Regions from separate parts of the Homo sapiens genome. Here regions 1, 2, 3, 5, 6 and 7 are each reported to be linked to region 4. Evidence: microRNA targets listed by miRTarBase, many of them from high-throughput screens and not tested one by one. Region 4 holds a microRNA gene; each other region holds the end of a gene's coding sequence.

The links. Region 4 holds the annotated microRNA hsa-miR-147a (GUGUGUGGAAAUGCUUCUGC, at 1,913-1,932, shown strand). A microRNA usually pairs through its seed, bases 2 to 8, with sites in the 3' UTR of a target mRNA and lowers its output. Matches are read on the target gene's strand: a 7mer-m8 pairs with bases 2 to 8, a 7mer-A1 pairs with bases 2 to 7 and ends in A, and an 8mer does both.
Region 1: the mRNA of DCAKD is a reported target of hsa-miR-147a. Seed matches in the 3' UTR shown: 7mer-m8 at 3,658-3,664.
Region 2: the mRNA of ACVR1C is a reported target of hsa-miR-147a. The part of its 3' UTR that is shown has no 7-base or 8-base seed match.
Region 3: miRTarBase lists ELFN1 as a target of hsa-miR-147a. Seed matches in the 3' UTR shown: 7mer-m8 at 3,644-3,650.
Region 5: the mRNA of VAMP4 is a reported target of hsa-miR-147a. Seed matches in the 3' UTR shown: 7mer-A1 at 2,236-2,242.
Region 6: miRTarBase lists C15orf61 as a target of hsa-miR-147a. Seed matches in the 3' UTR shown: 8mer at 577-584 and 7mer-m8 at 3,069-3,075.
Region 7: miRTarBase lists CHST11 as a target of hsa-miR-147a. The part of its 3' UTR that is shown has no 7-base or 8-base seed match.

The regions. Positions count from the first base shown.
Region 1 is chr17:45,020,677-45,024,746 of GRCh38, forward strand. DCAKD (dephospho-CoA kinase domain containing) reads right to left here. Exons shown (of 5, transcript NM_001288655.2): 5 at 2,668-4,048. The coding sequence ends at 3,757. Among named protein-coding and RNA genes, the nearest start is that of DCAKD, 29 kb to the right of the region's middle. RefSeq lists a silencer at 1,356-1,705.
Region 2 is chr2:157,530,560-157,534,639 of GRCh38, forward strand. It overlaps ACVR1C (activin A receptor type 1C), which reads right to left. Exons shown (of 9, transcript NM_145259.3): 9 at 1-3,484. The coding sequence ends at 3,359. Among named protein-coding and RNA genes, the nearest start is that of CYTIP, 89 kb to the left of the region's middle.
Region 3 is chr7:1,746,872-1,750,951 of GRCh38, reverse strand. ELFN1 (extracellular leucine rich repeat and fibronectin type III domain containing 1) reads right to left here. Exons shown (of 4, transcript NM_001128636.4): 4 at 3,006-4,080. The coding sequence ends at 3,869. Among named protein-coding and RNA genes, the nearest start is that of ELFN1-AS1, 6.6 kb to the right of the region's middle.
Region 4 is chr9:120,242,837-120,246,916 of GRCh38, reverse strand. MIR147A (microRNA 147a) reads left to right here and starts at 1,867; the gene lies at 1,867-1,938.
Region 5 is chr1:171,701,184-171,705,263 of GRCh38, forward strand. It overlaps VAMP4 (vesicle associated membrane protein 4), which reads right to left. Exons shown (of 8, transcript NM_003762.5): 8 at 1-3,351. The coding sequence ends at 3,323. Among named protein-coding and RNA genes, the nearest start is that of VAMP4, 39 kb to the right of the region's middle.
Region 6 is chr15:67,526,307-67,530,306 of GRCh38, forward strand. C15orf61 (chromosome 15 open reading frame 61) reads left to right here. Exons shown (of 2, transcript NM_001143936.2): 2 at 112-3,840. The coding sequence ends at 239. Among named protein-coding and RNA genes, the nearest start is that of IQCH-AS1, 6.5 kb to the left of the region's middle.
Region 7 is chr12:104,757,351-104,761,430 of GRCh38, forward strand. CHST11 (carbohydrate sulfotransferase 11) reads left to right here. Exons shown (of 3, transcript NM_018413.6): 3 at 1-4,080. The coding sequence ends at 453. Among named protein-coding and RNA genes, the nearest start is that of MIR3922, 170 kb to the left of the region's middle.

The DNA of each region.
Region 1 (4,070 bases), not on the chromosome of region 4:
CCCTCAACCACACTCAACTCCCAGCTCTGTCTCTCTTAGTGGCTTGGGGCACCAATCTCCCCATCACACAGAAGTTGGATCCAGAGCTCCGCATGAGGCTGAGGATGAGCCTAGGGCTGGCCTGCCCCTAGGAGCCTCCCCCACCCCCCACCCCTCAGGGGTGGGGGGCTGCAGCACTCCCAGCCTTCTGCCTGAAGCCCGTTCCCAGCCTGTAAGCTGGGCGCCTGCTCCCTTGAATTCCCTCCCTCCCTCTCCCTTCCTGAGCGCTGAGCTGTGGAGCAGAATGATTTCCTGTAATTGGCCAGCAATCCGGCCGCCCGACTTGTTCTATCGACATGCTGGTTAGCTGGAAATTGTATTGGAATCTAAGTGACTGGGAGCGGAGGGGAAGGTGGGGAGCAAAGAGAGGCGGTTTGGGTCCCAGCTGGGTGCAGCCTCAGCTCTGCAGGTGGGATGAGGAACCACCAGCCACGTCTCTCCTGGAAGGAGCAGGAAAGCAACCTATAGCACCACATCACCTCCTTCCTTTTGCTCCTTCTCTCCCACCATGTCCGGGGGTCTCCCTGCCCACTCCTATATGACCCCATGGCCTGAAGTCATCACTGCCATCGCATTCCCCCTCCTGCTCTGAGACTGTTTCCTTCTGACCTAAAGTGCCTTGGTGAGAACTAGGGGCGCTCAGCAGCGCGCCTATCCTGCTCCCATTCAATTTCTAGCCATGGAGGCTCATCATGGAAGGTCCTAAACCTTTCCCTGCCTCTGCCCTGCCCCCCATGAGGAGAGAGAGAGAATGAACATTTGAAGAAGAGTTGTCAATTACTAAAGAGCCAAAGTGTATAATGGGGGCAGTGCAGATAGCCGGAGGAGCACTGTACTGGGAGTCAAGAAGCTTGGTGGTTATACCTGTTGGCTACTTAGGCCCCTTGGCTCAACCTCTGAGCCTCTGTAAAATTCTGGACCTGTCTGCCTCACACAGCTGGGAGATTTCAAGGGGATAACTGGAACGTGCTTTGTAAACTGTGAAACTGCGAATGACCTTCGGGCCAGTCGGGCCTGGGGGTGGGGGTGTTTTAGAGGCCTGCCTGCGCCCTTCGTCCCCCGCCCAGAAGGCGTGTGCGTCTTCACCCTCGCTGGTGTCTTATTGCTCCGCTCCGGGTGCTAAGGCCCAAAGTGAGGGAACGGAACGCGGAGGCTGCAGGGTCCCGTCGCCGTCGCGGTGGGTGGGCAGGGGACACGCCCTTTGGCACCCAGGGCCCGCAGCCCAGGCTCAGAGGACGTGGGCGAACAACGCACCTTTTGAGTTAGCGCTCAGGGTCAGGCAGAGCCTCCGCGCCCACCTGGCCCGTGCTCCCGCGGCAGCTGCTCGGCAGGAGTCTGAGGCCGCCCGCGGCCTGGGAGGAGGAAGATTAGGCCGCTCGGCGAGCGCCCGCCGCGGAGGCCCGGCCCAGCCCGGGAGGGTGCTGCCACCTGCCGGCCGAACGGCAGGCCGCCGGCTCGGGCGCGGGCCTGGGTCCCGGAGGCCCGACCTCTGCAGTTGCTGAGCGGCCTCAACTTCAAGTCCCCTTCGGAGAAAGTAGTCCTTCTTTTAAGGCCGCCTTGGACCCCCAAGGCCGGGAAGGGGATCCTGGGGCAGGGAGGCAAGAGGAGCTGGAGAGGGAGCTCTGGCGAGGCCCGGGCAGGGCAGGGCTGAATTCGAGGTTTCTCCACACCTGCCATGCTCTGACATTCCTGCTTCAAACCCAGCTCACTGGGTCAGGGAAGGTTAATTCTCTGGAACTTTACAGTTTGCTAAGGGTTTTCAGTGTCCTCCACTATGAAGCCTAACGATGTATGAGTAGAAACTAAAGGCAGGAGGTCACATGGCAAGCGGAGCCGGAATGCGAGCCCAAGGCCCAACCCCAGGCTCCAGCTCCTCCTGACAAGAGGCTCAGGGCACAGGAGAGAGTTCAGAAGCCTGGCTCTGCAACCTGGACCAAATCCATCTTTCTGAGCCTGGGATGGAAATAATCAGTGTTATGTTAACTATAGGGTCTTACACATCCAGCAGTGCCTGGCATGCTGCCGATACTAGGAAGTGCCATTTCCTCAATTATTGGGGTGATAGGGCACTGTGGGGGTCCATACCTTCCCTCTCCTTTCTCCGTCCTGGCGGATCGCACCAAACCGAGGAAGTGGCAGGCTCCTGCCACCCTCATCCTGCCTGGCCACCCACCTGGCAGCCCACCACTGCCTTACCCGGCCCTTCTTTGCCCCTTAGGGGTTTGCAGCAAGTTAATGAGCTAGACTCAGCACAAGCGGCTCTGGGAAAGGGGGCACTAAGTATGGCCACCACAGCATTTGCATCCGTCACACTCATTTCTAGCCTTAATAGGCTTCTGGCTGCAGGATCAACACATCAGCAAGTCTGCAGGCCCTGGCAGGGAAGGCTTATGTCTGCGCTGGTCTAATTGGGTTGGGGAAGGCAGATGGGGAGGCGGGGCAAGAAGGTGTGACGCTGCCTCAGCCCTCTACCCACCTCCCACAAAGGTGCCTCGGGCCTGGCTGCAGTCCTCCTGGGACCCAGGGAGAAGCCTGATGGCAAGTGCACCTTCTGGGGCCCTCACCTCCCCCTGAGCTCCGGGAGGACTCCAGCCCAGTGTGGGAAGAAGCCAAGTCTGGGAATCTTGGTTGGTCTGGGGCATTTCAGATCAACACACTTTATTAAACACCAACAGCGGGCCAGGCTCTGCACTAAGAACACAGAGATGAATAAGACACTGTCCCTGTCCCTAGAGGGCTTACAGTCTAGTAGGAAAAACCAGGCAAGTTTCGGCTAATTACTGTACTGTTGGATTAAGGTAAAATGTTGAGGGGGAGTTGGTATCCTAGACCACCTAACCCAGCCTGGGGCTTTAGACAGTGCCTGAACTGAGAGCTAGTTGTAGGTTAAAAAAAAAAAAAAAAAAAAAAAGGAAGAAGAAATAAAAGAAAATAAAAGGTATCCCAGGCCAGGAGCAGCAGGTTGAAGGCACAGAGGCAAGAAACAGCAAGGATGGTGTACACGGAATACCAAGAGGTCCAGGCGAGAAGCAGGGGTGGCAGGCAATAAGCAGGATGTGGGAGCACTACACAAACCCTACGTGGGGAGAGGGGTCTCCCAGAAGAGGCTGGTCCTGCCTGGCTACAGCGTTACCCACGAGAGAATCCTTGCTGCTTGCTGGCAGCAAGCCATACTGGGGGGCCTGGGCCTTCAGTATAAAAAATATCTCAACCTAGGGGAGGGCCTTGTTGACTGTTTGAACATGGAAACCCTTGGTCCAACATGATTTCCCGTGGTCCACTGAGGAGGTTTAGGCCACAATGGGGTAGGTGCTTAGAGAGGATTCAAGCCCAGTGAACCCTTGGCCTCCCAGCTCTGAGGAGGGCCACAGAGCCAGTATTCCCTACCCCCACCCACAGAAATGTATAGCAGTCTCTGACTGTTGCTTTCACACACCATCACGGTTGCTGTTCTGTAGGTGCTGCTCAGGGAAGGTGGGAAGGACAGCAGGCTATTTCTTGATCTCAAATAGGATACACTCCAAAGACGGGATGGCCTGGCACAGAGGCCCAGCCCTGATTCGGAGAGTCCGTGTGTGTGTGTGTGTGTGTGTGTGTGTGTGTGTGTGTGTGTGTGTGTGTGTGGGGAGGGGGCTGAGAGGAAACAGGATGTGTTACCTGGCTTCAGCCTCCAAGGAGATAGATGGAGGCCTGGGGCTCCCTGCCTTGAGTGCCCCACTAGGCGTAAGGCAGAAGGTAGTGGGTGAGCAGGTAGAGGAGGCTGGCAATGGCAGCGAGCCCTGTGAGGACCCCAAACCTCAGCGGCAGGTACTCCAGGGAGCGCTCCAGCTCAGTGTGCAAGAGGATGACCTGGCGTTTGGTGACACTCCACTCGCCCGAGTTGTCTAGGACATGGCGGGCCATGCGGGCCTTGTCTGTCAGGGGCAGCTGGGCATTGATGCGGGCCTCTGCGTCCTTGCGGTTCAGGCTGTTCCGCCGCATCAGCCGTGCCAGCTGTGTGTCCCGGTCGCTAAGGATAGGGCAAAAGGGCA
Region 2 (4,080 bases), not on the chromosome of region 4:
TAACCTAATGAATCTATTGTAGATTTTCATTTTTAAATAAAAGCTAATTTTAATTTTTTCAGATACTGCAACCAGGTTACTATTTTCATACAATCATGGAAATTTAAAATGCAAAGTTAATTGAAAGTATAAAGATGAAAAGCAAGTGCTATGCCTAAAATAGTGCACGACAGTCATGTTTCACTTAACTCTCAAGTCAGAACATAAATTAAGAATTCTAGATGTGACATGCCAAATATTTTAGACATAGAAGAAAGCATACAACAGAATCTGTACCAATTACAAACTTAAAGGCAAAATTTACAAGGCAACAAGTTCATGCTGAAATACTGACAACAAATAATGTTTCTCTTATTTTCAGAAAGTGATGCTGCATTTAAATCCCATCACCACTTTATACAGTACTGAAAATTCATAATAGTGTTTTCCCAAGTCTTGTATTATACCCCAAAGCCAAAATATCTGTAAGGAGTAAAGAACACTGATACTCTGAACATAACCTAAGGAGAATTTTTTTTTTTTTTGCTTATAACAAAATGTAAAAGAAATAAATATTACACAATGGGACTCCATTAAAAACAATATAACATTTGACAGCATAAGTATATACAAGAAGCCTGCCTTATGCTCTAAACTTCATCATCCTATTTTTGTAAGTGAGCATGTTCTATATATAATCCTGTTAAGAGTAAAGGAAATATTACAACTTTTAACATTTTCCTTATCATTTTTGCTGCTCTATTCCCTTTCTTAAAAAATGTATTTTGTAATTGAAATATAAGACTACTCAGTTAGGAGTCATAGTTAAACAACACAAGAACAAGAAAAATACCTCAAAATGTACTAACATACGGATTTCTTCAGAGTGAAAGTTGAACCAATAAAATATGAAATTATATTTAGACACCCTCAAATAAGCTACAAAACATAATGACAAGAAAAATGGAGATGGTAAAAAATCCTCTCTTAAAAATTCAATAAGCATATTTACCCAACATAAGTAAATAAAACAGGAAATATCATTCTTGTTTATTTGAGGCACGTACAACCATAGTAAATAAATAATTTCGTTCTTATATATGCAGAAAAACAATCTATGAGAAATTAGTAACAAGAACAAGCAAGATTACCCCTTCACATAGGCTCTTTTTAAAAATCACTTCACATAGGCACTTTTAAAAACTGATGATATATTTAGATTGTCTGTAATATCCAAATAAAGCTACTTTCTAAATGTGTTGCAAATGAAAGCAATTTTCAGACCTATCCTAGAAACCCACTGTCATGCAGAACTCAAGACATCCCACTTCGTATTTTATCTGTCAATTTAATCTCTTCCCCCACACACTCACATCCCTATTCCCATTCCCAAATTAGACTTTAAAATCCCTGAGGGCAGGACCTATCTATCTTTGTATTCCCTCTTGTACCCGATATTGTGGCAAGCAAGATATGGGTGCTCTATGATTATTTAATAAGTGGATGAGAGCATTAACGAGTATGGAAGTACACGCAAACTCCATAGCTGTCAGTTTTTTGCCTTCCTTATTTCAACTCAGTAAAATGAAGATAGATTCAGTAACATATTTCCATAGTGAAATGAAGCATAATCACTAAATTGTACTCTATGAGAAAATACAGAAGTATATCCTTCAGAACGCTATTACCCAAGCTGTGCTTTGCTTTATAGAACAGTTAAATATGGGATAGTAAAAAGTTTCCCCTCCTCTTAATAAAAGGGTTCCACCACGATCAGGTAATCTGAGCAATCCAGTTTAAAAAAAAATCAAGTAGCATTTCTTTACTGTTATTAGTTTTTTTTTTTTTTTTTACTGTTATCAATAGCATTTACTTCACTCTTCAAAATACATTATATGCTAACATGTACTATCACTTTATAAGCAAGTACCAAAGAACACTTTTGGTCTTGGATCATCTCAGTAGAAGAATGTTCTAAGGAATGGAGTTTGAAAAAAGATGTTTTAGGAGCATAAAAGACATCATGTTAAATCTCGTTTACCAAAGTAAAATTATAGATTTGAAGGGCATATTTAATGTCCCATTAAATATTCATTACTCTGTGTCCACAGAAAGTAGAATGAAGGCAAAACTATCATGAGCATTCTTCTGTACTCACTCACTCACTGTGAAAGGGTAGAGGAATATCTATTTGCTGTTTCTGATACCGTCTGTAGGGTTTGGTTGTTAACACTTCATTGAAGAGTTTTCTTAATTCTTCTCAATATATTCTCAAAATATTTCCTTCCTTCCTCTTCCTTTTCTGTCTTTTCTTTCTAAGTGTGTATGTACAAAGGAAATAGGGACCTCTGAATTGTATCTTAAAGACATTTTCAGACAATGAATATTTATGTTTGATTAATCTTTGGAAGTGTTCAGAAAACATTAATGCTCATTAACAAATGGGGTAACCATGATATTTCTATGAGAAAAAATGTCAACAGATATGGTTCTGAGATTTTGTGCGGGTCCATTATGATTCTGCAAAATAACTCAATATGCCTTCTAAACCACAAATATCATAATAAAAGATATTACATAGGGAGAAAAGCACTATTCAAGGGAAAGTAGGAAGCTAGCTAACCTTACGGTGTTCATTATCACAAGATTTGGACCTAGTGCCAGTTCTGCCATTAGCTGTGTGACTTCAGGACATTTCTCAGTGTCTCAGGATGTCAGGTATCTCTTTTGTAAATGAAAGGAACAAGTTTAGTGGTTCAGGGACTGCTGCAGTAGTGGATTATGAAGAACAGGAGAACAGCAGAAGGGGAGACCAAGCACATGGGACACCCACCTCACTTACATCTTCCACTAAGCAGCTCCACTCTCACGTTCGATATATTAAAGTTTAGAGCAATATTTATTTTTAAAAAGTCCTGCTAACTTAAAAAGGGGGAAACATAGATTGCATCACCTAAAGATAGCATGCTCTAATTTGCATGTTTAATTAATATGTTTTCATCTCAGAAAAAAATGTTTTTACATCTTTTCCTGTTCATTCATGTGCTCTTGGTTCAAGTAAAATAAAAACTTAATGACTATAACATTTTTATAGAGCTTATTTTATACTTTTGTAATATATTTCTTCCTTATTAAATAAAAAGATGAGTTGAGGTGTTGCTTTCAAAATAAAATTAAACATAACATAGAGATTGGATGAAGTCAACTCCTGCCCATGCTTAACTTTAGAGTTATCTTTTCATGCTGCCTTATGGGCACTTAAATACTGTACTGTCTTATCTTTGAGGTAGAACAAAAAAAAAATGGCAAAAACATTCACATAAAGGGGAAAATGGAAAAGAAAGCTATGAGAGATTTCTTTTTAACATAATTATCATCATTAGGCTTTGCAGTCTTCTTTGACACAAAGTTGAGATATAGTCTTCTTAATACGAAGAGCAGTTAGGCGGGCCGCTCCGTTGGCATACCAACACTCACGCATTATTCTCCCCATGACTCGGAGTGCCTTTAAGAGAGAAAAAAAAAATCAAAGACTTTAGCTACTCTACATAAAACAGAGCACAAAAGAAGTAAAGCCATAAATCCAGGAATTGATGCTAAGCTTTTTTTTTTTTTTTAAGAGATGGGGTCTTGCTATGTTCCCCAGGCTGGAGTACAATGGCTATTCACAGGTGCAAGCATAACACACTACAGCCTCAAACTCTTGTGCTCAACCGATATTCCTGCTTAATCTTCCAAGTAGCTGGGACACAGGCATGCACCGCTGTACCTGCCATTGATGCTAACTAAGTTTTGATGAAGAAACAGTAAATTTAAAACAATATAAGAAGATTAGGGTCAAACCCCTTCAAAAATTCTACCAAAACTCAAATACTAACCTTGTAGAGACTAACTAAAAAATGTTTCAATCCACTGATTTCTGGGAATATGGGACATGAAAAACATCAAGGGATATGGGAAGGCTTGGAAATTCCCTGTATCTTGATGTTGGTGATGAGTACACAAGTGTAAACGTACGAAAAAAAATTCATCAATCTGTATACTAAGATTTGTGAGTTTTACCAAATGTAAATTATACTACAATAAAAATTATGATCCAAG
Region 3 (4,080 bases), not on the chromosome of region 4:
GATGTGACCCTGGGGTTTGCTCCCTCGGCTGTCGCCGCAAGAACCAGCCCGTGCTGGCTCGATGGAGGATGGGAGACTGTGGGGAAGAACCCGGTCCTCCCTGTGCCCCGTGACATGAGAGTGTGCCCTCTTGCCAGCCGCCCCCCGAGGGGCCATACCGCACTGTGGTTGTGGGTTAGGCAGCATGATCACGGCAATGGATAACCAGTGCACTGCAGGAGGGACAGGCATCGGCATCCCCCCCACTGGACAAACGAGGAGACTGAGGCAGAGAGGGCCAGTGGCTTGCTATGGTCACACGGTCGTAGGGGTACGGCCTGGGCCTGAGGCCTCGCTGTGGCTTAGCCCTGGTCTCACAAACGAGCAAGACCTGCCCTCCAGGGCTGCCCCTCGGAAGCTGGGCACCCATCCCAGCTGCAGGGCAAGGCTGGGTCTGGCAGGTTTTTCTCCTGCTCCTGAGCCCAGCTCTGAGCCCACAGGGCACCAACCCCTCTCACCTTGGCAACCTCCACCTCCTTCCTCGCCCAAACCAAATACCACCCCTTCCAGGAAGCCTTCCCGGCTCTTCCCAGTCAGGAGTTCCCATCCTTCCCAGACCTCCAGCGCCTCCCCTGCTGCCCTGAGCCGGGTCACCCACCTCTGCACTGAGTTCTCTGCCAGCCTGTGAGCTCCCCGGGGGGCCGGGGCCGGGCTGGGCTCCTCCCTGCGCCCACACAGAGCTTGGCACAGAGCCCTGCACACAGTAGCCGCTTCCTAAGTGTGTGTCTCCTCCTGCTTATGTCCTGTCACCCCCACCATGACACCTTCAAGCAAGGGCACGGGAACTCGGGCCTCTTTTTCCCAGGACTGGCTGGGCGTTTGCAGACACTCGGGGCCAAGCCCCGCGGCTTCCAGGAGGGCTGAGCTCCCGGGCGGGGTGTCCTGGCTGTTGAGGACCCCGCACCTCGCTGCCTGCCATTTTCCCTTGTTCCTCTGTGGGCCGTTGACTCCTGGCCAGCTGCCCGGTGTTCCCAAGGCAGGCGCCTCTCTTCTGTGTCTGCCCTTCTCCCGCATTTCCTATAAATAGCCCATCTTCGCTCCTCAGTGAAAGGGAGCAGCGGGCTGAGAAGGCCTGGCCACCTCTCTGTCCCATGACCAGACTGTCATCGAGTTGCTATGTGACCTTGGGCAGGTTGGGGCCCTCTCTGGGCCTCCACCCGTCAGCCCTGGAACCCGCTCCTGGTCCCCGCTCCTCTCCCCTGGGCCTGGCGTTGTGGTCTCCAGCGGTCTCTCATGCCCTCCCGGGACCCCTCATGGAGGACAGGGAGCTGCCCAGGGCTGAGAGTCCCGGGCTGGCCAGAAACCTTGGGTCAAACGGCGAAGAGCTGGTGATGCAGCGTCCTCAGAAATGGCCCCCTTTGGAGGGCTGAGTCACAGGGTGCCCGTGGAGCCCACCCGGGCGTGCACCCCCGGAGCAGGCCTCACACTCTCAGGTCCCTGGTGGGGTGACCGGGGTGCAGGTGGCAGGATCGGGCTGGCTAACCTGGAGGGGACAGATGGGCCCTCAGTTCTGTGGCCCCTGGGGGACAGCCCCCTGGGCTTCTGCTGTAAGGGAGGTCCCGAAAGCTGGAGACAGCTACAGAAGAGAGGGGTGAGCTTCCCGTCACCCAGGGCGTGCAAGCAGAGGCTGCCCCTGCTCCTACCTGCACTGGCCCTTCCTCCCTCCCTCCTTGTCCCCCACTGGGTCAGACTGAGACTGGGTCCTTTCTTGGGGGACCCGTCAGAGCCTGAAAACCGGCTTCATCCCTCCGGTTCCTGCCCTGGAGTCTCCCGGGTTCCTGTTGCCTCTGGGACCCGGCTCCAGCCGCAGCCTCCTCCCTCCCTGGGTCTGTGCCAGAGTTCAGAGTGGGGGTGGGTCTGCCATCAATGGAGGGGTGGGGTGGGGGCTCAGCAGCCGGGACTTTAGGAAGGACAGGGGAGGGGCCATCCAGACAGGAAGAGAGGGGTGACAGGGAGCTTTGACTCAGCAGTCCCGGCATCAGGCAGGTGTCCGGGCCCAGGGTGAGGTGTTCCCCTTCCTCACAGGGCCCTCCCCCTGAGCAGAAAGGCAGCTCTGCGTGGGATGCAGGGCTGGGGGCTGTTTCCCTGGGGTGGGTACAAAACCCCCACTCAGCTGGCAGGTGGATTCGAGGGCCTGGGAGTCCAGTCTCGTCCTCAGCGTCTCCCTCTGGCTCCTGTAGGTGGGATGAGGGGCACCCTGTGCTCTGGGCAGCAGGAAGCCAGGGACTCTCTCCATCCTCCCCTGGGGATGCTAAACAACCTGGTGCTCGTCCCACATGGACTCCAGCCTCTTATTCACTCAGAACGGGGGCCCACACCAGGGCGTGCTGCCTGGAGGGGTGGTGGGTGAGATGCATATGGAGGGGGCTGCAGTGCAGGGTCTGGCTCCGGGCTCAGCGTCCTGAGAGACCCCCGAAGAATTAGGGGTCTCTGGGCACTTCCTGTAGGTGGGGCTCTGGCGACAGCAGGGGAACCCGCCCTCACACAGACACACCCTCCAACCACCTCACGCTCACGCTCAATCACATGCAAACCCACACCATCGGCTCACCCGGAACCTCACTCAAGAGCCTCTGGGCGTCCCAGGCCCACTCACACCCCCTCGGCTGCTGGGTTCTGCACACACCCCGCTGGCACGCACAGCCAGACACACACAGAAGCAGCCCCGCACCGTGGATCCACCACACCAAGACCCTGCTCCCGCCCGTCCTCCCGCCGCCACCTGAGCTTGGCTCCCGCCTACCCTGTCCACACCGGCTCTCAGACACGCTCCAGCCCAGTGCGGGCCGCCCACCTCCCAAGGGTTCCCACGTGCACCCCCCTGGTCACACCACGCTCTAGCCAAGAGAGCACAGCGTGTCCCCACCCCAAGGCCAAAATCAGTAAAACCACCCCCTAAACGGGACATAAAAGAAACCTCAACTCTTTCCCTGAAACCCACAGTAAAAACCCAGGACAAACAAGCATTTGATTTGTTTTCCTTTGCAGATTTTTTTTTAAGTAGACATAGTCTTTTTTTTTTTTTTTTTAGTAGACATAGTCTTTTTTTCTTTCTCATTTTACAGCAAACATTGCAAATATAGAAATATTTTTTTCTGTACAATAGAACGACTACAGTGTACATGGGGGCTGGGCTGGGGGACGTGCCTCCCAGCCCTTGGCCGTCCTGGCCACCCCGGCCGTCCACAGGCACAGCCTCCACCCACCCTGAGTCCAGCAGGGCTCCAGGACCTGTCCCGGAGGCCACTTGGCCGCCGGCATTCACTCTGCCCCTCTGCAGTGGACTCCGGAGGCGGCAATGAAGAGACGGACTGGACAGAGAATCCACAGAAAACCACGGACCGAGGAGATCACGTGAGGGGCCCCGAGGTGGCCACGCCGGCCACACCCCCCACGGATGGCATTTTATGTCTTTTTAAAATAACTTGTCTTTTATTATATTTTTTTAAAAAAGGAAGAAAGTAAAGAGATAGAGAGGAAAAGAAAAGGCAGAGAAGACTCAAAAGAGGAAAGATAATGAAAAAAAAATCCCCACCCCCACCCCCCATCCCTAAGACACAGTTTTCCGAAGTCCCTCGTGTGTGTGTGTGTGTGTGTGTGTGTGTGTGTGGACACGTGCCACCCGGGGCGACAAGCGCATCCCAGGACCGGCCACAGGAGCTCGGGACGTGTCCCCCTTGTCTGTCCCCACTCGCTCCCCCCTCGCCTCTGCAGGGCCCCCCGCTGTCACAGTTGCTGTGGTGGCGTGCGTGTGTTGGGTTTGGTGCTGAGTCTCTGGGTGGATCCTGCATCCTTTTTGGTCCAGTGGGCATCGCCGGTCTTGGGGGGCTCAGGACTTGTGCTGGGCCGACACGCCCTTCCAGTAGTCCAGGATGTCGTGCAGATCCTCGTCTTTGGCGAACTGAACCTTCTTGCGCAGGGCATGGCCCGCGGCCATGAACTCCTCTTCCTCCTTGTGCCGCCGGCGGCTCAGTCTGAAGCGCTCCCAGATGCTCTGGGAGGCCCGGCAGGTGTACTCGGGGCTGGAGGAGTAGCTCAGGC
Region 4 (4,080 bases):
CCCCATGGTCCCATTGTCTGGCTTTAACAATGGTCAACTCCTGACTAATCTTGATTTATCTACACTCTTATTTCCAGAATGTTTCAAAATGTTATATGTTGATTGATCCATAATAGCCATTCTGACTGGTGTGGGATGGTATCTCACTGAGGTTTTGATTTGCATTTCTGTAATGATGATTAATACTGAGTGTGTTTTTATATGTATTTTGGCCACATGTATGTCTTCTTTTGAAAAGTATCTGCTTATGTCCTTTGCCCACTTTTTCATGGGGTTGTCTGTTTTTTTGCTTGTACATTTGTTTAAGTTCCTTGTAGATTCTGGATATTAGATCTTTGTCAGATGTATAGTTTGCAAATGCTCATCAATGGTAGACTGGATAAAGAAAATGTGGTACATATACACCATGGAATACTATGCAGCCATTAAAAAGAATGACATCATGTCCTTTGCAGGAACATAGATGGAGATGGAGGCCATTATTCTCAGCAAACTAACACAGGAACAGAAAACCAGATACTACATGTTTGCCCTTATAAGTGGGAGCTAAATGATGAGAACAGATGAACCAAAAGGGAGAACAACACACACTGGGGCCTACTTGAGGGAGGAAGATAGGAGAGGGAGCTTCTGAAAAAACAAAAACAAAAACAAAAACAAACAAACAAACAAAAACAAACCTGTTGGGTACTATGCTTAATACCCAGGTGACAAAATAATCTGTATGCCAAATCCCCAAGTCATGAGTTTACCTGTATAACAAACTGGCACATGTGCCCCTGAACCTAAAATAAAAGTTAAAATATTTTAAAAAATACAAAAAAGAAGGAACTTATTTCACTAGTGGTTCTTGTAAACTTTGTAGTGGCTGGAGCCACATCTTTCACTGTCCATTCCTTTTTTAAAAAATACATTTAAAGTTTAAAAAAAATTATGGCAAAATACACATAACATAAAACTTACCATCTTAATCATTTTTAAGTGTGCAGTTCAGTGTCTTTAAGTACATTCACATTGTGCAACCATTACCACCATCCATCTCCAGAATGCTTTTCATTTTCCCGAACTGAAACTGTACACGTTAAACAATCACTCCACATTCCTCCCTCTCCCTACCCACTGGCAACTAGCATCTTACTTTCTGTTTCTATGAGTTTGACTACCTTAGGTACCTTATATAAGTGGAAACATTTAGTGTTTGCCATATTATAACATGCCTATTTCACCTAACATAATGCCCTTAAGATTCCTCTTGCATTGTAACATGCATCACAATTTCCTTCGTTTTCCAAACAATATCCCATTGAAGGTATAAACCCTATTTTGCTTATCTGCTCATCCATTGATGGACACTGGGCACTTGGGTTGCTTCTACCTCTTGGTTATTGTGAATAATGCTGTTATGTACGTGGATTTACATGTCCAGGTCTGTGCTTTCAATTCTTTTGGGCATATACCTAGAAGTGCAATTGCTGGATCATATTTTAATTCTATGTTTAATTTTTTGAGGAATGGCTGTACTGTTTTCCATAGTGGCTGCACCATTTTCTATTCCCATCAAAAGTGGGCAAGGGTTCTGATTCACTATTTTTTTCTGTGTGTGTGTGTGTGTGTGTGTTTTAATAGTAGCCATCCTAATAGTTATGAGGTGGTTGCTGTTCATTCTGTTAGAAAAAGTGATGTAACCATTGATTGGAAAAACAAAAACAAACCCTGCATCTTGAGAGACTGTGGATTCCAATGAGCCTCAGAAGCTCCTGAGAATCAACCGATAACAGCAGCCCACCAAAAAGCAGCAGAAAACCCCAAAGGGCAGCCAAATGAAATGTCTTCACTCCTTTCCTTCCAAAGAGCAAACACTCCCTGAATCTAAAGACAACATTTCTGCACACACACCAGACTATGGAAGCCAGTGTGTGGAAATGCTTCTGCTAGATTCTGAAGGTCTCCTTCCATTTTTGGCCTCTGGAAGAGGAGTTCTATTTTGCCTTCTCAGTGGCATAGTAACAACCACATAATTCAAAAATAAGTTTTCCTGTGCATTTCCTTGTTGAATCTTGCACATTGAGTTTTTTTTTATATTCATGCATTCTTTCATGATGCTTAAATGTTTTCTTCGAAATATCTACTGTATTGATTTGTAAATTAGATAGTCTTCTGTAATAAAATACTACTTTTGCAAAAAAAAAATCTGTTTATATAGTATAGTGGCTGTTGGGAGGGAACTGGAGGGGCAATGTGGGAGGGAGAGAGCCCTTTTGGGAAGGTGCTGCAATGAGCTGAGGGAAGAGATGTGGCCTGGCTAGGGTGGTGGCAGTGAGGACTCATGGGGAGGGAGGTCAACAGACATTTCAGAGACAATCTGCAGGACGTAATGCACAGTCACTGGTCAGGCCTGAGGCTGAGGAGGCAAGAATGCCTCCCATTTTTCTGGCTTCATGGAGAGAGAGGTGGAGAGTCAGGGAATAGAACAGAGGTGATAGTGTTGACTTCCATTTAGCCCTTCAGGGCCCTGCAGGCCACCTGAACTTTCAGTCATGTTCAGTAAGACAAGAGCTTGGGTTTGGGGGAGTGAGGGGGAAAGGAAAGTTGGGGGATGGATTGTAATGGGTCTTGGAGGTGGGCTTTGGTGTGTGAGCTTGACTCTGGAGGATGGACAGCCAGAAGGTGCATGGTGAGGTGCAGGGTGAGAAAACAGCTCTGCACTGGGCCAGGCCACTGGAGGTGGACATGAACATGGAATCCTAGGTCTGAAGGGGCCTTCATCCAGTCATTCCATGGTGCCGATGGGGAAGGCGAATGACTGCCCAAGGTCTTTCAAAGGATTGGTGGGAGAGCAGGGACTGGAATCCAGGTATCCGTGACCTCTGCATCCCTCAGCCCTTCCTGACATCCTCAGGGCACTCCCATCCTGTCATCCTCCCACCCTACTTCTGAGCACACCCATTGTGGGCTGAGGCCCCGTGCCTGCTTTAGACTCAGAGTGCCCTGAGTTCGAGTCCTGTTTCCACTCACAAGCTGGAAGGCTTGGGGTGGTGACCTTTGCTCTGAACTTCACTCTCCTTAACTTCCCTTTCCTCATTGATCACATGGGGACGCTGATGCTTCTATCCCAAGGTGGCCTGGTTTAATGACATAAGGCATGTTAGAGGGCTGGCAGATTGCTTGGCACCTGTGAACACTCAGTAAACAGTGTTGAAGTTGGGTCATTTCAGAGTCAGCCCAGACATCACCTCCTCCAGGAAGGCTTCTTTGGTCTTCTCCCCCTTAATCACACAAGGTCAGGTAAGATCACCTTCCTCTATGCCCCCAAAGCACTGAATTGGGCCATCCTCTCTGTCTGTCTGTCTGAGAACAGGGGCTGGTATTTAACAGTATAGTTTAGTTCTGGCATCTTAGAGATCTGAGTTCAAATACTATCTCTGCCACTTCTTATTTGTGGCATATGAGACGAGTCTCTTAATACCTCTGAGCCTCAGTTTCCTCATCTACAAAAGAGAAATGGTACCAGTGATAGCTATCTTTTAAGGTCTTTGTGAGAATTAAATGATAATACATAAACACAGTCCTTAGAATGATGCTTGACACATAGTAAGGGCTCAATGAACGTTAGCTATTTATGCATTATTATTCATCATCACTGCCATTTTTACTTGGAGGCCTATTGGACTGGGAGTTAGAAGACCTGGATTCTGTTCTCAGCTTTTTATTCTGCTGATCTTTAGTAAAATTTTAGATGTATCTGGGACTCTTTTAGATAGGTGGTTAGATAATCAACAAATGAAATTTTTAGTAAAGAGAAGACCTAGCTACCCCTTGTCTCTGTTTTTCACTGCGGCAGGCACACCCTGGGTGATGCATATGTGTTTGTGGAGTGCCTATGTTGGGAGTAGACTCTAAGGCGGACTTTGTCTTCCTTCCCATGACCACACAGGCCTCTTTCCTGGGGCTCAAACTCATGGTGGCACCTGCTCCAAACGGGCTGGGTTCCCATCTCCCTGCTTCCCTTGGGCCCTCCTACGGAGGCCCTGTGTGTTTGCAGACACAGCTGAGGCCCTTGGCCTGGGGTGCACACCCAAC
Region 5 (4,080 bases), not on the chromosome of region 4:
AAACTGACTTATGCTCTTACTCTCAACTCACAGAAAAATGGAGTCCAATCACATTTCCATGTGAAAACACAAAATTAGGTTAACAGAACAGTCATCCTTGACATAGTAATACTCTGACAATACAATTAAGGGGACATCTTCTAATGGCATTTGTTCTTAACATGGAAAAACAATTTCTTGCATATTTTCTAATCATAGTGTATATACAGATGTAAATACAGAGTCAATGTGTGCAATGATGCTGACAAGGCATCAAGCATGTTTTAGAGTATACCGGCAATGAGAGATTTCAATTACTTTATATTCCTGCCTTCTCAGTCTGTACACATATTATCATTTACAGGATAGTCACATACTATACAGAATTGAAAGATGCCAATTTTTGCTATCAAAAGTGCTGAAGTTATAATTTCCTAATACAGACTATTGAAATGCACAGAAAGACTACAATAGGCAATCTATAGCAGGGCTAACAAAGTATTTCTATATCTCATGTCTATTAATTACCCTTCCTCCATCTTATATAATATTCCATCTTCAGTAATGAACTTTTATCTAATTAAGAAATCCCCCAGTTTATAAAATCTGAGGGCAATTTCCAGTGAACTTTGTCAGGATAGAGGAACCAAATGACCACAGGTATTACTGAGTTATAATAAGAAGGAGTAACCAATTAATCAGTATTATAACAACAAAATTGCTGCAAGGCAATAGGCTTCTGTAATTAAACATAAATCACAAAGGTATGGATTCAGGCATCAAAATAGTGACGTGATTTCACTGAGTATCAACTAGTATTTGCAAAGCTACTTGAATTTTTCTGTTGATCTTCACTTGTTGTTAAATAATGATAGTTTTGATGGTGGTAAAACTTCATTTTTCAAGTGCAGGATGATCTGAGCTGAATGAGAAAAAAAGTAATTAAGGGAGGGAATAAAGGTAGGCCTGGCATCAGTTTGAACAATATATTTTTTTCTTCTGTTTTTGATCGTAAGAGGGCTTATATCTCCAAGGTTACCACAATAAAGTCATAACCATGCCAGCCATTTTAAGGATTTCAGGATTAATCAAGACCAAGAAAGATGAAATGATGAATTACAAACCAAGCCATCACTACTACAAAGTTCCATGAGTGATAATTCTGTTACCCATATCCCAGGCAGCAATATGTTTAAATTACAAAGACAGTGACATATATATTGTCAAAAAATTTTACTGTTACTTATTATTTAAATTTAAAAATTTTATAATTTTACATTTTGTAATTATTTATTTAAAAGTGGCATATTTTATTAAAAGGAACACTGGAAATATGGATACTTTTTGAGAAGTAATCTTCATCTTCACTTGTAGATATTATGGAGAAACCAGATTTCTACATCAACTAATGGAAAATTAACCACTTATGAGCCTAGTTCCAATTCAAATAAAGGACATACATACAAATGTTAGGACTGATTCTGTCCATTCAGTTAAAATATTTCCATTCCTGAATTATTAGCTACTGAAATTCTAAAAATGCTCATTTTTCTGGGTATCTTAACTTAAAAGATTTATTAGCTGTTCAGATGCTGTTTATATTAATTGACATTTACAAAGAGCATAGAGACCAAAGACAATATACACTATAGTATGTAAGACCTTTATCTCCTTCTAAATGCTCTAAGCAAACTATAAAATTTAGTAATTCTATTTAGATCTTCTTAGATAACTTGCAGGTGTCTTGAGTGTCTCAGTCTGCTTTCTCTCTTCAAATTTTTTCCATTCTAAACAGCATTTTTTGCCTCCTAGTAATAATCCTGTAGAATTTTAAAAACAGACAAAAAAACACCAAACCCAGATTCTATGCTTTATTCATTTTGCATTAAGATGACCAAAGAAATAAAACCTAAATAAAATAAACATAAAATCATTTTTCCCTATTTAAATACTGATAATTTCTATTAACCCTATTTTTAATTTAGGGAGTTTTATATTCATATTGTCAAGATATCCAGTGCACAAGTTTCTGCAGAATCACTAATTTTATTATAAAGCTTCCTCTCCCCACACCTTAGGGGACAATGTATTTTCACTCTGACTTGTTTAAAAGACACAAGGAGGTTGGCATATTTTAAAGTTAACACATTTTTTCATTATAAAAACAGGCTTAGGTTAATGGTCACTCTCTAGCATTTGGTTACCGACTGACTGATTATCATATGTGTGCGTGTGTGTGTGTGTGTGTGTGTGTGTTTGTGTGTATATATATATATATATATATATATATATATATATATATATATACACATAGGTTCCTGACTTTCTACTACTCATTACTGTTGGCTGATGCAAAATTTGATTGTGCAACATACATCTCCTCAAGGATGAACAGGAAATGCAAAGATATAAAATTCAAAGTATTAATAGATGGTTTTGCTACTTTTTGTACTTTTGGTAAATGAGATAGTTGGAAGTTAGAGGCTATTAACTAAAATAAAATTAAGGAGTAAGTAAGTTACCTGTAAATTTCATTTACTCACATTAGGACTGACTGGTCTCTCTTTATTGGAGTTTAACAGAAAACAGACTGGACCATGACTGGCAGCTATATATTGGTCATTTTCAAATACTCCAATGACACTCTTCAATAACTTTATTATCTCCAGTTTTATGATGCCATACCATGTTTTTTCACACTGTTTAAAAATTTCCATTTCCATAATCCAATGCCAAAAAAATTACTACACATTCTCTTACACAGTCAAAAATATATTTACTGGAATGTTTTTAGTTATACCTGAGGGCAACAACATTTACAACATTTAGCTTTTGTTACACCTATAAATGTGGAAATTGCTTGCAAAACAACTGTAATATGAAAGGAACTATATTTCTGCAAATATTGACAGAATGGTTATGCATCTCTTTCAGCATATAATTTGGTACTCTACACAGGCTTCCTGACCCCCAGCATGACCCGCTCCCTAATGCAATAATGCAAGTCCTTATGCCATTAAAATATTAATATGAAATATTATAATCAGTGTTTATATACACAAATAATGAACTGGCAAGTATCTAGTTTCAAATTAGATCCTTGAAATATGGAAAAATAGAGGCTAGTTCTCTTTGCCTTAAACATAATTATTAAAAGAACATTTTGTTAGAAAGGGAGAAGATAATTGGACATTCTCAACGTTCCAATTTGAAGTGATACTTGCCTCTTAGTTTCTTGAAAAAGAAGTTTTGAAAGTTATATACACATAGGTTTCATTTAAATTATGCAGCAATCTTTTATTACTGTCCCAGATCTTGTTTAATGAAGATCTCTGTCATCAAATCAAGTACGGTATTTCATGACTATAAGAACTGTAAGAGAAAACATGAAAAAAGCAATATATCAACATCAGATATATATGCTATGTTTGAAGCAATATTCCTAAATGTAGTTGTGTCTACTTTTAGAAATGGGTAATGAGGATTGACTGAACTTTTATCTGAGGTAATAAATAATCAATGGGAAAGGAGAAGCAAAAAATATCATAAAACAACCTAAATGTCTAACATTGGCATCTTAAATAAATAATGGCATAGCCATAGCTTGTATCTGCTGTTAAAATATTACTAAAAATTTTGATAACCTGGGATAATAGTCACAATATATTTATTAGAAAGTACATATAATATAGTCTTAGTTTTTTAAAAAACATGCTTGTATATTAATAGGAAAAGAGAAGTATATATAATAGTTATATTAGTAGCTATCTCTACTAATTGTAAGATTATAGTTGAATTTTTCTTCTTTTTGTTATTAATATTTCACATTTTCCAATTGCTCACTATATATACATGATTGATTCTTGGTTTCTGAGGTAATTATTTTCTATAAGGTCACTACAAACACTAAATTAGTGAATATGGAACCACTGCTTCTAGGGAAAATATAGGGTTAAGTTCCTGTGAGTCTCTGGCTACTACATTTTTGTCAATCAATGCATAACCTTGGTTTATATGTGTTTCTGTTTAAAGACACTTTATTTAATATGTATTATTGATTCAGTAACACTGTGCTCAAGGCCAACAGCACTATAATTCATG
Region 6 (4,000 bases), not on the chromosome of region 4:
TATATTTTATCACATTGTAATTTGTTAACATTGCTGAAGAGTGTTATACGTGATCAGTAACTTGCATGATTAATAAGCATTGATGTTTATACATATTCGTTTGTTTTCTAGGTATTCCAACTTTATTATATGGACTTGGCTCCTGGTTATTTGCCAGAGTCACAGAGACTGTGCATACCAGTTATGGACCCATAACAGTTTATTTTCTCAATAAAGAAGATGAAGGTGCCATGTATTGAAAGTGTGCGTCAAAGAACATAAATATCAGTGGATTTTCTCTGTGTATATGTGCAGTATTTATTTTTGATCCTTTAAAATAAAACTTTTGCAAATACTTTTTTCTTTCTACAGTATCTGCTTCTTTAAGATGAATCATTGCCCTCAAGAGGTGAAGCTTTTTATACATCGTTATATATTACATACTCTGTTTAGCTGATGTGAACTACAAACACATGAAGCTTCACACCATTTTTTCCCTAGAACTAGGTTAACCTACAGATAAAAAATGATTACAATGTAATAGATTCTATAGTTAATTAACAATTTAAATCAACTCTGAAGAGAAAATATAGATGCCCACACAAAAGAGAAGGGGGGAAAATCTTTTATGTAACAATGGAAAAAGAAGTAGAAGACATTAGGATGTATGATGGAAATATTACATCATTGGCAAATCCAAAATTGATGAGAATCTAATTGTAATCTCAAGTCTAAACCATTCAGCTGCCAGGATTGTAAATAGAAACGTTTTAAAGGCCTTGTGCCATTTACCTGGAGGAGGGGTTGGAGTGTAATGTTGAAACTTCTTGTTGCTTAAAGAGTCCAAAACCATATCGTTTGTAAAATGTAATAATAACTGGTTAATATAAGTGTAGCAAGGTGAATGAAACTCAGACTTATTAAAAGTTAAAACAGCTTTCCTATAAAGCTGTAAGAACAATTAAGATCTTCTAGAAAGATGCAGAAAAATAAATTTGGTAACTGTTTATAAAAGCAATTAACTGAAATGGTACATATCCATAGACTTATTGGCAATAAGGAGTGGGCTGAAATTTTAAAGACCTAATGGCACTTTTGCATTTGAATTTTATTAACTTAATTGCATTTTTGAAAGCCAAGTCATTTAAAAAAATGTATCCTTGGGGTAGTCACAAAATACCCAGATGAATGGTAAATTTCAGACATTTGGAGTAATTTAGGGAGAACTAAGTAGAACTATTTAATTTCTAAACCAATGGGTGTTTAAGATTTATGATCTCTCCCATAATTACAAACATACATTATATATCATTTTATGTTAATGTGTTGCTGATACTCTGCAACACTTACACATTTTTGTAGCAAAACATTTTATAAAATTCAACATTTGGATGCTTATGTCAAGTCAGTAGAGAAAGTGAGTGGAAGTGACTGAGGTGAAGGCACCAGAATAATGAAGTAATACAAACTAGCTTCGTTAAAGGTAGTCATTTTAAATGATCTACAGAGTGAACTGTTCTTCAAATATATGTGGTGTTCACTTGTCTAAAAGCAATTCTAAGTAACACTTTAATCAAAGAAGTACTTATGCCAATATATTTAGTCCAGAAGAATATACTTGACACTAGTTAAATGAATGGCTTACACAAAGGAGATAGTGTTACATTAAGCTTCATTAATAATAAAACAACTGGCTATTAGCATTTTGCAGGGAAGGCTAGAACTGATTTCCTCTGTAATGGGCAAAGTTAAATAACTATAGCTCATAAGTTTTAAGTCAAATACTGCTCATTCATTGCTGCTGGTCTTGTCAATAGTGGCTGTAAAGGTTTGGTCCCAACACAAGGCTGATAAAATGGTCTTTAATTACCAGACTATAAATACAGCTTTTCAGTAGAGTTGCACCTCTTTTCACACTGGCCTGTTTGATTTCTGATAATTTGTACTGCTGACTCTGCTTACCTGTTTTTCAATAGCTATAGTCAGTGTGACTTCTTGCCCATATGTGATAGGTAAGTGTCCTTGGAGAACATCTTTGACAAACTACCCTATTGATCTCTGTAATTCTCTGCTGCTTGCAGCATTAAACAGGGCCTTGATTTCTTGTCTGATGTGCTCACTGTATAACAAGTAAATGTAATATTTTCTTGTATTACATGAAAATCAATAGACCTCTTGCTCTTACGGAGTTGATCATGGTGAAGGATGAACTAACTCAACAATGGGTAAAGGCGTGGTTTAAAAATTTAAATATCATTCATTGGATTTATTAAGTCTTGTAAACTTGTAGTCTGAAAACAATACTTCCCATTGAACAGCAATGGTTTAAGTTTTTTCTTTAAAGCTGCATATTACACCAAAGTATTATGGCCTGAAAGGGAGAAAGTATAAATGTGTAAGTCAGGAGACTGAGTCTATTTTTAGTATTGGTGCTGTCTTACTTTTTGACCTCAGGCTAATAACTCTCCTCCTTTGTGTCTTGGTTTTTCCACCTGTAATCTGAGAAGAACGAAACAAGAGACATTTCTACCCGAAAATGTACATCAATTTTACTTTTGTCTCTGCAAAAGCTCTGTTTTTATAATCCACATTCTTCTGCTCCATTATACTTAAAGGACTTCATTAATTAAAAAATTTCAAAAATAAGGTGATGGAGAAAGAAGGAGAGATGCATTGATAGCACATGCCCACTAACCCTGAAGTGGCATGTGGGGAGCTGAAGAGGCCCTTCTCTTCTGCATATCAGTAGTTTTCTTAATTGGTGAAACCACTGATTAGCTTTTCTGTCATATTTCTTTGACAGGATTTTTATCTTTAATCCAACCAAAACTGTTTTAATAAAGGTGTACTTTTAGTACAAAACCTTGCATCTCTTCTATTGTTATTTCTATACAAATGAATTATCACGTATTGGAATAAATTTCTAGGCAAATTCCTAGGCAAAATTCTTAGTTCCTGTGTAAGTTGTGAGCCACTATAAAGATGCAGTAACCTATTTGGGAGCGTGAGAGAGGCTGCTAATACAAAAATCTCTATTTTCTTAGTGTTGATGTCCTAAAATGCCAAATTGTAGAAACAGTTATAGTTTACCACACATTTTGGGGCATTAATATTTTTCTAACGTTGACTTCCGTAAAAATTCAAACTTTTCTTTTTGAGAAGGAGTTTCAGTCTTGTTGTCTAGGCTGGAGTGCAATGGTGCGACCTTGGCTCACTGCAACCTCCACCTCCCAGGTCCAAGCGATTCTCCTGTCTCAGCCTCCTGAGTAGCTGGGATTACAGGTATGCACCACCACGCCGGCTAATTTTGTATTTTCTGTACAGACGGTTTCACCATGTTGGTCAGGCTGGTCTTGAACTCCTGATCTCAGGTGATCTGCCGGCCTCGGCCTCCCAAAGTGCTGGGATTACAGGCATGAGCCACCAGGCCTAGCTGAAACATTTGTAATTATTAAAACCGTGTATCTTTTAAAGTACATTTTACTTCATGTCATTTATATTCACCCAAAACTGTAAGCATAGAACATCTATAGTTCTTCATGAAATATCTTTTAACTCTGTTAAAGAATGATGTTTGAATAAGTGGGATGACATAAAAGGCAAAGATCTTGGTTTCACTGCACTGAAAAGCTAATGCAGATAACAGAAACCTTATCCTAAAGCTAGTGGATTAAGTATCTACTGTTACTCAAACAATAATGACATTTGGGGGCATCTTAACCTAAACAAGTACTTAGCATTACATCTCACCTGGGTCAACAGTCTAGAGTATCAGAGTTAAACTCTGTTACTGTAAATTAATGGAAAATGTAACTGCACTTTGCTGAAAGATCAATGTCCAATAAAGGCTGCACGATCAAATCTTGTTGCAATGATTGAGGTCTTTAATCGCCTTTCAAAGATAAGGTGGTAATCAACACAGCTTTAACTGATCTTTTTTACTAGTTCAATTACATGCTAATGACTAGTGCCAAGTCAGAATCTTTAACTACGTATTAAATCTTATGTTAGTAATGAAAAA
Region 7 (4,080 bases), not on the chromosome of region 4:
AAGTACAACATCTCCTTCCACAAGCGGTACGGCACCAAGATCATCAAACGCCAGCGGAAGAACGCCACCCAGGAGGCCCTGCGCAAAGGGGACGATGTCAAATTCGAGGAGTTTGTGGCCTATCTCATCGACCCACACACCCAGCGGGAGGAGCCTTTCAACGAACACTGGCAAACCGTCTACTCACTCTGCCATCCCTGCCACATCCACTATGACCTCGTGGGCAAGTACGAGACACTGGAAGAGGATTCTAATTACGTCCTGCAGCTGGCAGGAGTGGGCAGCTACCTGAAGTTCCCCACCTATGCAAAGTCTACGAGAACTACTGATGAAATGACCACAGAATTCTTCCAGAACATCAGCTCAGAGCACCAAACGCAGCTGTACGAAGTCTACAAACTCGATTTTTTAATGTTCAATTACTCAGTGCCAAGCTACCTGAAATTGGAATAAAGGGGGTGGGGAGAGGGAGAGAATCATGCTTTTTAATTTAAGATTTTTATTTGTCAAAAGAATTATATGGATATTGGGTTATTTTGTAAATTAATATTTCTTTGGGGATGATGCTGCGAGCAGCATAGTGAGAATTATTTAAAATCCTTCGTAGGGAAGGACAGCTGTCTTTGCAGGGGAAATAGGATGGGTCGTCCTTGTCTGTAGAAGTGAATACTGCAACACTGTCTCAAAGGTTTCTTGTGTTCTGGTGAATTCCATGAATTGTGCATTCCATAAATTCTAATTAATATTATTTATAGTTATTTAAACATGGTCTCATTATTTCTTTTTGTGGCAGCAAAATTCTAACATCTTTCCAGAAGAAATCTATGATTCCTGCTTTGCTTGCTACAGCTCATTTGGGGGCATGAATGTTCTCCTTACTAACCTCTCATGGAGTCATGTGATAACAGCCATTGTCATGTGTATGGATGCCACCATTCTTGAATTTCTGCTAGAAATAAGTAGGTTGCTATTGCACTTAGAGTCATCTTTGCAAGGGACTCATTCCAAACCAATTCCAATCGACCTGAAAGTCCCTTGCACTAAAGAAATGTGATTTTTTTTTAACCCAAGGAGAAAGTTGGTTGTAACAATTTTTCACCAGAATTAGCAATCTGATAGAATAGGCTTTTTTAACAGGAATTTTAAACTGGCGGTGCCAGTTGCAGTGAAGGTGAAGTGGCTATTGCTTTATATTCGACAAATATTTATTGAGCATCTACTATATACTAGGCCCTGAAGATAGAGCGTTGAACAAACCCAATAGTCTTGGCCCTCAAAAAGCTTTATGTGACATAGAGCATCCAGCTCGACAATTAGCAAACCCCTGATATTATTCATGGACTTGACATGAGGTTTGGACTATTCATGAGCAACAGCAGAAGGTCCATGACCCCTACAAATTTACATTTTTCTATGGCCCATATTTGAAAACCTCACATTCGGAGCAGGCCACTTTATATTCGTGAGTGATCCCAAGCTCACTGACCAACAGAAAAGATGCTAAAAAAATGTGTCCTATCATGTGCCTGCTCCAACTGATGGGTAATGTCTGCCTTTAAGCCCCAGAATGGATTCTCCAGGCACAGTGTGGAAGAGTGCTGTGGTTGATTAGCAATGTCTGCCTTGGGTGAGGAAAGGGGAACACTCCTCAAGTGCCTCCTACTGTCATCTCCATTCAGCCTAGCACCACATCCCCATGTAGAAGTGTTGTCTTCTACTGCTTGCCACGTACAAGTGTGAAATGCCAAGGTGAGACTCGTACACTTGGGGATTTGCAATGGTTTTTACCCCTCATGAAGGTCAGAGGTGGACTATTTGTACACATACACACATGCACACCCTCTCACGTCCTCCAGAGGCTGAAAGACTATCAGCATCTTGGTAACTGCCATGCATGAGCAGCAAGGACAGCCTTCCATAATCCATGCCCCATTTCCTCTGGAAGCCTGGAAACTTTTCATTTCCTGTTCCTTGCTAATTAACATCTAAACATGCTTCTCATTTCCAGCCATTGCTGATGCTTCTCAGTTGAAGTTTGAGCCACATCCCTCTTACAGCTAGTGAATGAGTTGGTAGCAGCTACTGTATATAATAATAATAATAGTTTTAATAATAGGGGAGGGTGGGATGGGGTGTGGGTAAGTTTTGCCTTTTGTTTTGTTTTTGATGCCGTATATAGTGAAGGGGTGAGGATATTCTAAACAAACAAAAATTGAATAATTTATTCACAGAAACTATTAAGATTGTATTGTAAAGCTCACAGCAAGCTCAGTGGGCAGCAGCTGCAACATCTCACCGGGGAAATTATTTTATTTAACGTGAGTGAGATGTGGGCCGGAGAAGGTAGCTGAAGCTATTTATAAAACGTTGTGTACCTTCTTCCGAGCTCTCTCCCCTTTGTGAAGGGCGCAGCAACTATACCCTTGATGGATGGAGATTTACGCAATGTGTTTTACTGGGTAGAGTGACAGACCTTGGCTGTCCCTGGAATTGAGAATCTGGACCTTATTTCCAGGCAGAGAACACTGTCCTCAGAAATGGGACTTCTGATAATGAAACAGGTTGTCCAACATTTTCTAATACGCATTCTACAGAACACAGGTTCCAGGAGGCATCAGGTTGGTGTGATGCAGACTAAGGGTTTTGTGGTCAAATATCCTTAAGAAACAAAGTTAAGTCAGTTTCCTTTCTGCAAGGACTTTTCAGCCTTCAATGTGTGCTGTGCATGGTGAATCCCCAAAAATAATCCTTGAGTCTGTAGCATTTCCTGAACTTACATGACCAGGATACTCTATTTTGCAGATCACCCCACAGAGCTAGGGTTCCACCGAGTATACTTTGCTTAGGTTGACTTAGCATATCTGAGGTCTTCAAGGATAAAAACTGCCACCCCAACACCCTTCCATTAAAAAAAAAATACAAAATAGCACCACAGTCTCCATCTGGTTTATAGCAACAGAGGTACTTTATTTAATGAAGCAATGGTTCTAATCCTGGATACTGCCACGGACTACAATTCTATCCCTCCCAGAGGGAGTGGAGGAAGTCTTGGGTGGTGTGGACAGAAGGAAGAGAGGAGAGGGTGAGTGGGGTATAGGGCCCAGGGTGGCTCCCTACTCCTCAGGCTCAAAAGGATGCTCAGTGGGAACAGATGATCTCTTGATGAGTGCTTCTTCAGTTTCATAGTTTGGAATCGTTCACTGTGTGCTTTTTGGGGGGTTTTCAATGGAAATTCACGTTGCTTTGCATTTCTGTGTCCGTCTTTGGTCAGTTGTGCAAGCCTGCTCACTGTCATGTGAAGATGGCCTTTCATCTGGCTTCTCTCTCTTAAGTGAGAAAGATTGTCCTTCAGGGGACATGACATCAATAGGTTTCTGGAATGAGGGACTCTTTCTCCCCGTGTTTTGCTTTGTGTTCACATTTTCTTTTCTAATGGCATTGAAACTTTAAAAAAAATGGATTCAACTGTTTTTGCAGAATGTAGAAAGTATTCTGTGTCCTTGGTTAAAGAAATCCACTTGTGAAGTGTGCCTGGAAAATGAAAGTTTGTGTTTTTTAAAGAGGAATATTTGAAACTGCTTTCTATGCATGCTTAGCTGGAGAAAAGTACAGGCAGGCGTCCCATCTCCCAGCCACTTCTCAAAGGTGCTGCTGTGTTTTAAAGACCAGGTACAGCCAGGGCAGTATTTGCAAGGACATTCCTGCTTACTTTATCCCTTTGGTTGGAAAGCTCTAGATGATTCCCGCAGCTCCTCCAGACCCCGCCTCCCTGCCCTCCCCAGCTGGTCTGGGAAGAGGTGGTCTGCTGACCTGTGGTATCTCAGAGGGGACGTTCCTCCTCCTCCCTGTGCACCAGGTGGGCTGCACCCTCCTGCCTATTCAGGATGTGGATGCCACAGGAGAGCAGCAGGCAGTGGAAACTTCAGTTGCACTGGTTCTCCTGGTGGCAAAGGCATGAAGCACAGGGGTCGATTAATCCAGGCTACTAGAAAGCTCCAGAGCAAAGTGTGCGGGTCCCACAAATGCTTGGCTGGTGGGGTCTGGATCAGTGCTGAGATAGAGTTGGCAGAAGAAGCAGAG